Regions from separate parts of the Homo sapiens genome. Here region 2 is linked to region 1. Evidence: fine-mapped expression QTL. Tissue or cell type: atrial appendage. Region 1 holds a variant in brackets; the other region holds the start of a gene. All regions are shown on one strand. Distances are between the middles of the regions.

Region 1 (5,158 bases):
AAAATGTGATATACCTATACCGTGGAATACTATTCAGTCACAAAAAAAAGAACAAAGTAATGTCTTTTGTAGGAATTTGGATGGAACTGGAGGCCATTATTCTAAGTGAAGTAACTCTGGAATGGAAAACCAAATACTGCATGTTCTCACTTGTAAGTGGGAGCTAAGCGAAGGATACGAAAAGACATACAGAGTGGTATCATGGACATTAGAGACTCAGATGGGACAGGCTGGGAGAGAGGGTCTGGGATTAAAAACTACTGGTTATAATGGGCATTATTTGGGTGATGGGTCCACTAAGAGCCCAGATTTCACCACTGGAACAGTTCATCCATGTAACCAAAAACCATTTGTACCCCTAAAGCTTAGAATGTTTTAAAAAATTACATTCCTAGAACCCATTGGCCTGTTCCATTTCTGAAAGAAGTCAGGAAGAAAAGGAATAATCAAATTCTGGCACTTCCTCCACAAAGCAAGAGAGGCAGACTCAAGAAAGGATGTTTCTTTCTCATACAAGTGAACATCTCTTTGTACCATTCCAGGGACTGTCACTCAGGCAAGAGTCTCCATCTACCCACACATATGCATGGAGTGGGTTTTATTATTGGTAATAATGAAAAAAACTAGCATTTATTGGGGTCTCCTTTTTCTCAGTACTTGCAAAATGTTTAATATTCTTTACCTTATTACTTTTTCACATCCACACTGTTAAATAGATATTGCTATCACCAGTTTGCAGATTATCATACAAATTAAGCAATTTTGTCTAAACTCACCAACCCTGAAAACTGATGTTTGAACACTGGTCTTTCTGTCTGCAAAGCCCTGGTTGCAAACCTGCTTCCCATATTGCATCTGATCCCACCCCATCAAAATTTTATTATTCAAAATTTGAATATAACACTGATATAATGCAAACATGTACACACATGCATGCACATAAAATCATCATATTTATGCATTATGTAATTTGATACCTACAGGTATTTTCTTACAGTGTCTTTCAAGTTTCACTTAGCAATGTTGCGACCAAGCAAGCTGTATGAATTCCACAAATAGCATTGATAAGAAGATGCAATTCAGTGGAAGCTTTATTATTATAACTAAACTGTTCATGGCTTTTTATAGTTTATAAACACTGTCATCTAGTTCTCATTTGATGCTTGTATCAACCATGAATGTGAAATTATCATATTTTGCAGAAAAGATACAGCTTCTAATAATCAGAAAACAATCTGAAGTTAGAAGCTAGCAAAACAAAGACAGGGGAATTGAATCTTGGTTCAAACTTCAAAGTTGGGGATCTACATCACTTCCCACTGCCTCTTTTTATGTATTTCATGGATTCTTCCCTTATCCTAAATTATTCTCAGTGTGGTTGCTGATCGTGGTCATCTATGAAGCTGAACATTTCCCCAGATAGAAATCTCCAACCAATTCTATTACTAGAATGATTTTACCGGGATATAGTCCTTAATTTTTTTCCTAACTCTTTCACTTCTCAGTGAAATGCCTAGATACAGCCCAAGGTGAAATGGAGTGAATAGCTCAGTGCCATCTATTGCTGAGTCAGCTGATGCACGGTCTATGGGTCTGCGTGACTGAAGGCAGTTGATTCCCAAAGGCAGACCTCTTCATCTCCTCAGCAGCCCCAGGGCTGCTTCAACAAACCAGCACATTGTCTGGGATGGCCTTTAGAGTGCAGAAATCTTGTTTGCCACCTTTGTTTTCAAAGTGAAAAGACAGAAGGATAGGAAGCTTTTTCCATCTGAAACCCTGCATCAACAGTCTTTCGCCTGCATGTTTTCTGATTACATACACTCATATGAATGAGACATTGGGCAATGATTTCAAGACATAACTTCTTGTGAATTAATGTTAACTCCTGTTACATTATTTAGCATTAGTGTTAAATAACTACCCAGAAACAACTGCAATCCCAATCCAGTTAAGCAAAGCCATATCTGAGACATATACACCATTCTATACTATAGCACTACCAAGAGTGGTGAATAAGCTAGATAAGAACAAGATAAAGGCCTATTCTTTATGTCTCATAGACAAAACCACCATCACAGCCTACCTTCAGTACTGTATTAGCCTCCAGGGTATTCTCTGTGCACATATTTGACCCCTACAATCTAATCTCCAAAGACCAGCCATGGGTTATCTGAAAGCATAAATCATATCGTCACTCCCCTTCTTAGCAATACCCGATGGCTTCCCATTACTCAGAATAAAATCCAAACTCCTTACAAAGCCTGGTTGCTTAGATTTTATTCAGAGAATGTCTTAGATAAATACTTGGAAAATTCAAGATCATAAGTCCATGAACAGACAGCAGAGGAAGATATTCCTGTAAAATACTTTGATTTGGGGGAAGACCTGAGAACAGCAAGAAAAGGAGATGTTCACAGTGAAAGAGGAAAGCTGGGAGATAGTCACCCAAAGAAAATAATATGTTCCTTATGGAGATCTGAAGAAAAGCAGTCAAAGTCTAGGCTGTGGTTAGGTTTTTATCAGAAAGCAGGATTATTTAGCTCAAAAGCAAGCAATGGAGCTTTATTCAGTTTATTTTAAAAAATATTTTAAAGGATTATTAGGATTATGGCATCTTCAAAGATGAAGAAAATTAAGAATAAGCTACTCCAAGATCCTTAATTCATATACATGGAAAGTAATTTCCAAACAGGAGTGAGTGTTTGGAAATTACTCTGTGCACAGAGTAATTGCTCCAGTTGTGCAATCAGTGGGTGGTATTTATACAAAGAGGACTGAGTTGCCTGGGATCTCTCATGAGGTGGTGTCAAAGCCAGGACCAGAACTCAGGGATGCACACTCAGACTCAATGCTTTCAAACAATATGTTATGAGGAGCTAATTTATTTTTTTTCCTTTTTTCTTTTGTTTGTTTTCTATTCATCACAATTTAATGCTTTAAATTAAATGAAAATATATTCACATATGTTAAATACAAGTCTACATTTTACCACTGTTAGATTTAAGACATAAAGATACTTTATGTCTTATGCTTATTCTCAGTTCTGTACTTACTACACTGCAGACCAGTAACAGTTTGTGGATCAGCACCAATCTGTAGGCAGCACTTTGAGTAGCACAGCTTTGCATGTCCTAACCAACCACTCTTGCAGGTTCATGAGATGCTTCTCCA[T/C]AGCAAGTTGATGCTTGACTTGCATAAGCACTTACAAAGCAGACTGCTGCCATCTCCAAAGGCGATCCTTTCTTCTTTGGATATAAACCTCACCATGAACTCACTTCCTCTGAGAAGCCCAGAAAAAGAGATACTGACCCTAGAAGTGACTTTAGCCATAGAACAGAAGGCCCCTCATGCTGAGCATGTTGAGCAACTGAAAAACACTCAGAATGGCCAACCAACGATAATGACATATATATATATACTTAGTGAGTTATCAATAATTTTCTTAGACATTTGTTTTCTACAAGAAGAATGCATCGAGAACATATTACAACCGCTTTCCAAAATTGCCTTGTGGTATCCTTCTGTCTCTATTGGCACTTCTCAGCCTCTCATGCTTCATGTTTTTTTTCCTCATAAAATATCAGCACCAGCATATTTTATCTTTGCTTGTTTTTCTGTGCCCACCAATAATGGCAATATACATACTATCTATTTTTTATCAGGTACTATCTTAAGTGCTTAACACACATTTATTTATTTAATCTTTAAAACAACCTTGTGATTTAAGTATCATTAATATCCCCACTGCAGAGATAGAGAAACTGGGAGAAAGTGAGTAGGTTCAGTTTTGAACTCAGTGAGATTGAAACACCTGTGAGATATTTATGTGTGGATATTCAGGAGCCTATTGTACACAATCTTGGAACTCAGAAGAGAAACAACATTAGAATTAGATACTAGAATCTTCAGTTGATGGAATAAAACCAGGTGGACTGGAGGAGATTTCTTGGAAGTGTGCACAGAGTAAGAAAGGGACCAGAGCCCTAAAGAGCAGCAAACACATCATGATCTGTCACTGAAGGCTTCAAATGAGTATATTTGCTGGATCCTTTGCAGTTGAACTGTTTACTGAGAGTGTCTGTCCCTCTATAAAGAAAAAGGAGCCCAGAGTCCACAATCTCTGGCATGCAAAAAGGGCAAAGAGGAACTGTGTTAGAAATGATGTCAGTGATAAGGAAGGGGTGGGGGCTGGAAACTATGCTCAGAAGGAACAATGTGTGTCTGTGGAACAATGGGGAACAAAAACAACAGGGCAAATGCTCCTTTAGTCTACAGAATTCTGAGGGGTTTACATGGGGGGCACTGGATAGACTTGTTCTTTGTGGTTCGAGGAGATGAAACTAGGACATGTGGGTGAAAGCTGCAGAGAAGCATATTTCAGCTTGTATGAAGAAGGATTTCCCATAGCCAGGGCTCTCAGTGTGGAACTGGTTGCCTGCCAGTATCCTCCACTGGGAAAAGGCCAGTTTCCACTTGAGAGTGAGACAGGATGGTTCCTCTCTGTACCCATGAGAAACCCTCACAGCAATTCCCACGGTTATGAGGAAGGATGTGAGGACAGAATAGGGATTTTCCTGGTTGGGCAAGAACTATGGGACAATAGCTGTGTGGTTCTCAAACAGCTCTTCTTGACAGTGATGTGGGTGATGAAAAGGCCAAGTCTCGGTGTCACAGCCAACAATAGTGTTCACAGAGCAATGGCTTTTCAATGCCGATGATCAGTAACTAAGTGTCCTCTCAAAACATAAGAGGAAAACTCTGGTTCCAAGTCCCTTGGATTTCACTGAAAAGCAGGGTTGGAATCTCCAGGTTGGAAGGACCTCAAAGCACTAGCTTGGCTCTTACCTATGTGAGAATCTCCCTTGCAGCATCCCTGATAAATGTCCTCCTGGTCCTGTTTACAAATCTTCAGTGATGAGCTTTCTGCAAGGCAGCTTTCCATGGTTCAAGAGTTCTCACTGTTATCGATGAAAAGTAAAAACAATAGTTCAGATTTATTGCATTCTCACTGTGTGCTGAACACCGGGCTGAATACTTTCCATGTATTGAAATCTTGAATCCTTGCCACAAAATTATTAAACAGCTTTAGTGTTATCCTCATTTGTCAGGAAGTGAGGAAATTAAGTATCACCATGTTAAGAATGTGTTCAAGGTCACA
Region 2 (5,158 bases), 98 kb before region 1:
TCTAGTAGAAAATGATTTTTTAATTTATCAAACAAAAGAGGTTTAAGAGTTGGTAAAGCACCTTCTTGCGTCAGGGCCTCTGCGCTCACAGGTGCTTCTGTCTGGCCTGCTGTAAACTGCAAATACCTTCGTGGTTCATTCCCTTATGACCTTCAGATTCCTATTCTAATACTGTCTGTCCAGAGAGAACTTCCCTGATTATCCTTATGAGAATGGATACCACCTCCATTCTCAGGGATCCTATTATGCCTCCTGATTTATTTTTCTCCTAGCATTTATCATTATTTAACGTACCATATGTTTTGCTAAGCTACTTATTAATTTGTCTGTTTTCCTACACTAAAACGTAATTTTCAGGGCAGGAATTTCATCTATTTTGTTTACTTAAAAATAACCCCAGCATCTCAAACAGGGTCTGACATCTAAGAGATGCTCAATAAATATTCATTACATGAACTATATACACCGACTATATACAAGATACAGACCACCCTCTTTTGCATAATGATTACTAGAAAATTTATTTCAGCTTCCTATGTGGTGTATCATGGCTTGTTGAGATGTTAAATGGAACAATAGTAGTTTTCCAGTTGATTTATTTTTTGTTTATGAAATTTTAAAATGCTCCTTTAACATGATAAATTGCCTCTTGCAGACATCCATCATCATTAATATGTTGAGTGTGTGTGTGTGTGTGTGTGTGTGTGAGAGAGAGGCTCATGTCCTGATTCATAAAAATCTGTTTCTGTGTTTTTAACAAAAGCTATTAGTACCTACCAGTATAATATGTTTGTATTATTAACATGAAGGTGTTGGCCACAAACCACTTTTCTTTGGGAATCTTGGAATGAATTCAATGAACAGAAAAAGCAGGACTAACCTGATCTTCATTCTTACTGGCAGCATCTGGGATGAAAATATAGAAACCAAAGTTAAGGAAATGTAAAATATTTAATAAACAAAACAAATAATCCATTTAATGCAGCATCTTGATTGCTTTAATGACAATATGTTGTAAAACCGCAAATGGTTTTTGAACACATTAAGATTTATCATGGCAAATAAAAGAAGGGCACTGGACCAGGAGATTAGTATATATACTCACAAAGGTCTAATCACTCAGAAAGTTACAATTACTTTGGAAAATAATACTCATGTGAATTCTAACCCCATCAAAATAGCTTATCTTCAAAAGGTCCTTTCGGAGTAATAAATGCCAGCCTCCCTTTTAAAATTACAATATAACATACACACAAAATACTATACCAATTATAATTTTGAAACTATATTATAGTTGAAACTATAATATAGCATTACATTTATAGGATATATACATAAAATTTAATTTTCTGAATTCTGGCAGCTCTACCTCCTTATTACAGCTGCAAAAGTTAGAGATCTGACAGAAGGTAAGATTAAGGTCACAGGCTATTATACTCTCTCATTAACATAGGCTCTTTTGTACCTACACACCTATTTTAGGAAAATGGGCATTATTTGTATATGATTTCAGACTATCTATGAGTTTCTCTTTTTAAAAATTTTAATGTTTCAGAGCAACGTAAGTCTAGGCAATTTGTGTTCTCTTAGGGTTAAATAGCAAATATAAAAATCTACCTTCCAGCTCCCACAAAAGTCCCTCACTCTTTGGGAGAAATGCTTTCAACCCATTTAGCATTTGAAAACACAAGACTAAAATAAGCTAGAAGATACCACTGCTTTAAAATAAGAACAGATGATTGAATTTTAAAAAATATTTCATTTATACCTATAACATTAAAATACATATATTATTTACAATTAAGTTTTAAATGTCTATTACATATATAAGAATATGCATTATGAATTGATACATTTAGCAAGAGGAAGATGAAGAAGAATCTATTCAGTTTTCTGAATTAATAAAGAATTAATGGAAGAATTTCTCATGGTTAGAAAATTCAGATTATCTCAAACTACTTGCCATTTCTAAAGATAACAACATAATTATAAAGCCACATATATAAATCTTCAGAACTCTGTGTCTGGCAAGACATTTCAGGATTATACATGCATACGTAAACATTTTTTGGCAGGAGTAGGGGGAGAAAAGTCCCTTCCCCAGGGCTTTGAGATGTGTGGCAAGAGGCTTAGATTACACACAAATTGCTCACCTTGTATGAGGCAAAGAGCCAAGGGCAGAAGCACTGACACTGTGGCTATCTTCATGTTGAAGACGATGCAAGTCGCCTACAGGTCCACTCCATGCATTGCTCAGCTGGTGCAGTATGACTGAACTCGGGGCGATGCAGTTTACTTTTATAAAGCACTGGTGACACCCACATAAAACCAGTTGTTCAAGGTCATGGGACTTATATACCACACCACTTTAGCTTCCATCCTTTAGGATCCTGTCAGGGTGTCAGGTTTGAACAGAGAATATCTATTTCTAAAGTAGGAATGTTCTTTCATGGTACCTCCCCCAGAACGCAATTGATGGAGTCCACAGACCCTACTCAAAGTTGAATATTCTATAATCCTATATAATAACCGAATTCCTCAGAAATACCAGATATACTACCTCGTAGACAAACATGTTTCTGACTGGACTCCCTTCATAAGTGGGAGAGGAGAGGAAAGGAAGACAGATTGGTTGTCCTACCAGTCAGGTATAGATTTAAAGATTTCCACATCCAGAGAAATCCAGGGTTCCTGTTCTGAAGTGTCTGAGTTCAGTGTCACAGACTCATATATATGTTAGAGTTGAACGACCCTAAAAGATAACCTGGCAAAATTCTAATGTTGAATATATAGGGAGGCAGGAACTCAGAGGAGCAATGACTTTCTCATAAGCAGACAGTTTAGTTGGAGCAGGCAGAGGAGGCATCCAGCACTTGCAAGCAGACCACACATATAACATTCTTTCCTCTCTGTACACTGCTTCATCCTTAGACATTAGAAAAGGCAGGAACGTTGGAAAAATAAAACTTGTATGTAACTACTTTTAAAACTTCTCAATCTGCAGGATATTTTATATTCTGAAGCCTTATTTTATATCCTAGCCAAACATCATAATCATAAACATTGGAGACTCAGTTTAACTTTCCATAGCCTATGATTACCCATATTACCGTTTGAAAAATTTGGCTCAATCAGTTTTCTCTAAATCATATTTCTTCCTGTATCATCCCATTATTTAGTCTCCCAAAAAGAAAAGAAGAAAAAAGTTGTTAACAATTATAAATGTGTAAATGTAACATTTTTCTAGAGAAAGTTTCTTCTCTTTAGTTGCTTCTTTCATCCTACAAGTAACACCTTTTTTCTACCAGCTTATTTTGCCCTAATAGCTTAAGAAAGCACCTGAAGAAACATGTGAAGATGACTGAAACCAGAGCCAAATTGTTTCATTCCAGTACTTCTCAAGATATTCACATCCACAGAAGAAAAGTTCGAGACTTTATCCAATTAAAGGCCTTTTTATGATGGTTCCAGAAAACTGATCAAAGTTGCCCAACTTAGGGAGTATGCCAATATTATGAGATTTATCACAGTGAGATAATACGTCCTTTCTTTTTTCTCTCATGAAATAATTTATTTCCTATAAAAATATAATCACTGGGCCAGGCACAGTGTATCACGCCTGTAATCCCAGCACTTTGGGAGGCCAAGGCTGGCGGATCATGAGGTCAGGAGATCGAGACCATCCTGGCCAAGATGGTGAAACCCCATCTCTATTAAAATACAAAAATTAGATGGGCTTGGTGGTACGCACCTGTAGTCCCAGCTACTCTGGAGGCTGAGGCAGGGGAATTGCTTGAACCCGGGAGGCGGAGGGTGTGTGAGTTGAGATGGCGCCACTGCACTCCAGCCTCAGCGACAGAGCAAAACTCCATCAAAAAAAAAAAAGATATACACACACACACACACACACACACACACACACACATACATATATATACACACACATATATATATATATATAAAATCATTGGTTTCAAGGTCTGCACTATTGTTGTAGCTTGGCTCCTTTCCAATGGAATAGTAAAATTAGTGACCACGGAAAGCAAGTTCAAATTCCATTATTGTTACAGGTTAGAAAATCAAAGTCCATCATAGCTTAATGGAAAGAGAATGAGACAGGGTTTCAGAAATCTGTTTCTATTCTATGTAGTCTTTTCAACTATGTAGGGATAGAAATGAACCCAGCTTTGAAGCAAGCTAGAAATGGGTCCAAATCTTGAATTGTTAGCCATGTTGCCTTGGACAAGTCACTTATTTTCTCTAAGCCTCAGTTTCCTAATATGTAAAATAAAAATAATAACACGTACATTGTACTAGTGCTAAGAGGTTTAGAGATAAATCATATATATAATGCGTGTGTGTTTGTGTGTGTGTGAGAGAGAGAGGTGCTTAGAACAATTATCAAGTTTATGTGATAAGCTTGATAGTTAATGATAGCTGGTCTTGCATTTTTACATAATTATAATAACGTGGTTGTACTAGATAATTTCTAAGATACCAAGAAAAGTAAACATCTGTTGACTGTGGATTTCACCAATAGATTTATATTTACTCAGCATAGAAAAACTACCCCAACACAATTTGAGGTGAAATTAAACTATAACGATATATGTTCTCTTTTTCCCTTTTAATTGTATTTTAAACCATAATGCCTAAACAAATCGAAACATCACCTGTTAAAACTTAACGAAAACCATTGCTCTGTTTCAATCAGCATTGATTTCTTGTCTCTTTCTCTAAAAGCCTCTTCTAAATATTCACATATCAATACTAATTTTTTATCTTTCATCTGCCCTGTCAGACCATACGAAATGTGTCCCAACCATATATTCTGTTATTGACGGTAAAAGAGTTTGATGCCTTAAAATGGAATCAATGACTGTGTATTATGCTCTAGTGACCCCTAGCCTAGCCCAAATGGAGAATATTCCCAGGAGTGGAAGTGGTGCTAGGGTGGAACAGAAGAACCAAAAGATGATTGCCTGTCTTAGGAATCTCTACTATGAGGAAACATTGAAGACATTGGTTTCCTTCTTACTGGAAAAGAGCTCCTCAGAGATGCCAGCCTTTTCTGAAATGATGAATAAAAAGTTTGAAACTGATATCTTTTCCAAATGGAGAAAGTAGTAAAAAGAAGATTCAGTGAGCACCCCCAAAA

Evidence for each region. PIP is the estimated chance that this variant, and not a neighbour inherited with it, causes the effect.
Region 2: it holds the start of SPINK5, and the variant in region 1 is the best candidate, but not a certain one, in a credible set for the expression of SPINK5 in atrial appendage (GTEx, PIP 0.90).

The regions. Positions count from the first base shown.
Region 1 is chr5:147,963,510-147,968,667 of GRCh38, reverse strand. No RefSeq gene overlaps it. Among named protein-coding and RNA genes, the nearest start is that of C5orf46, 60 kb to the right of the region's middle. The variant T/C (reference allele first, on the strand shown) is at 3,172.
Region 2 is chr5:148,061,095-148,066,252 of GRCh38, reverse strand. SPINK5 (serine peptidase inhibitor Kazal type 5) reads right to left here and starts at 2,273. Exons shown (of 33, transcript NM_006846.4): 1 at 2,154-2,273; 2 at 881-906. The coding sequence starts at 2,208.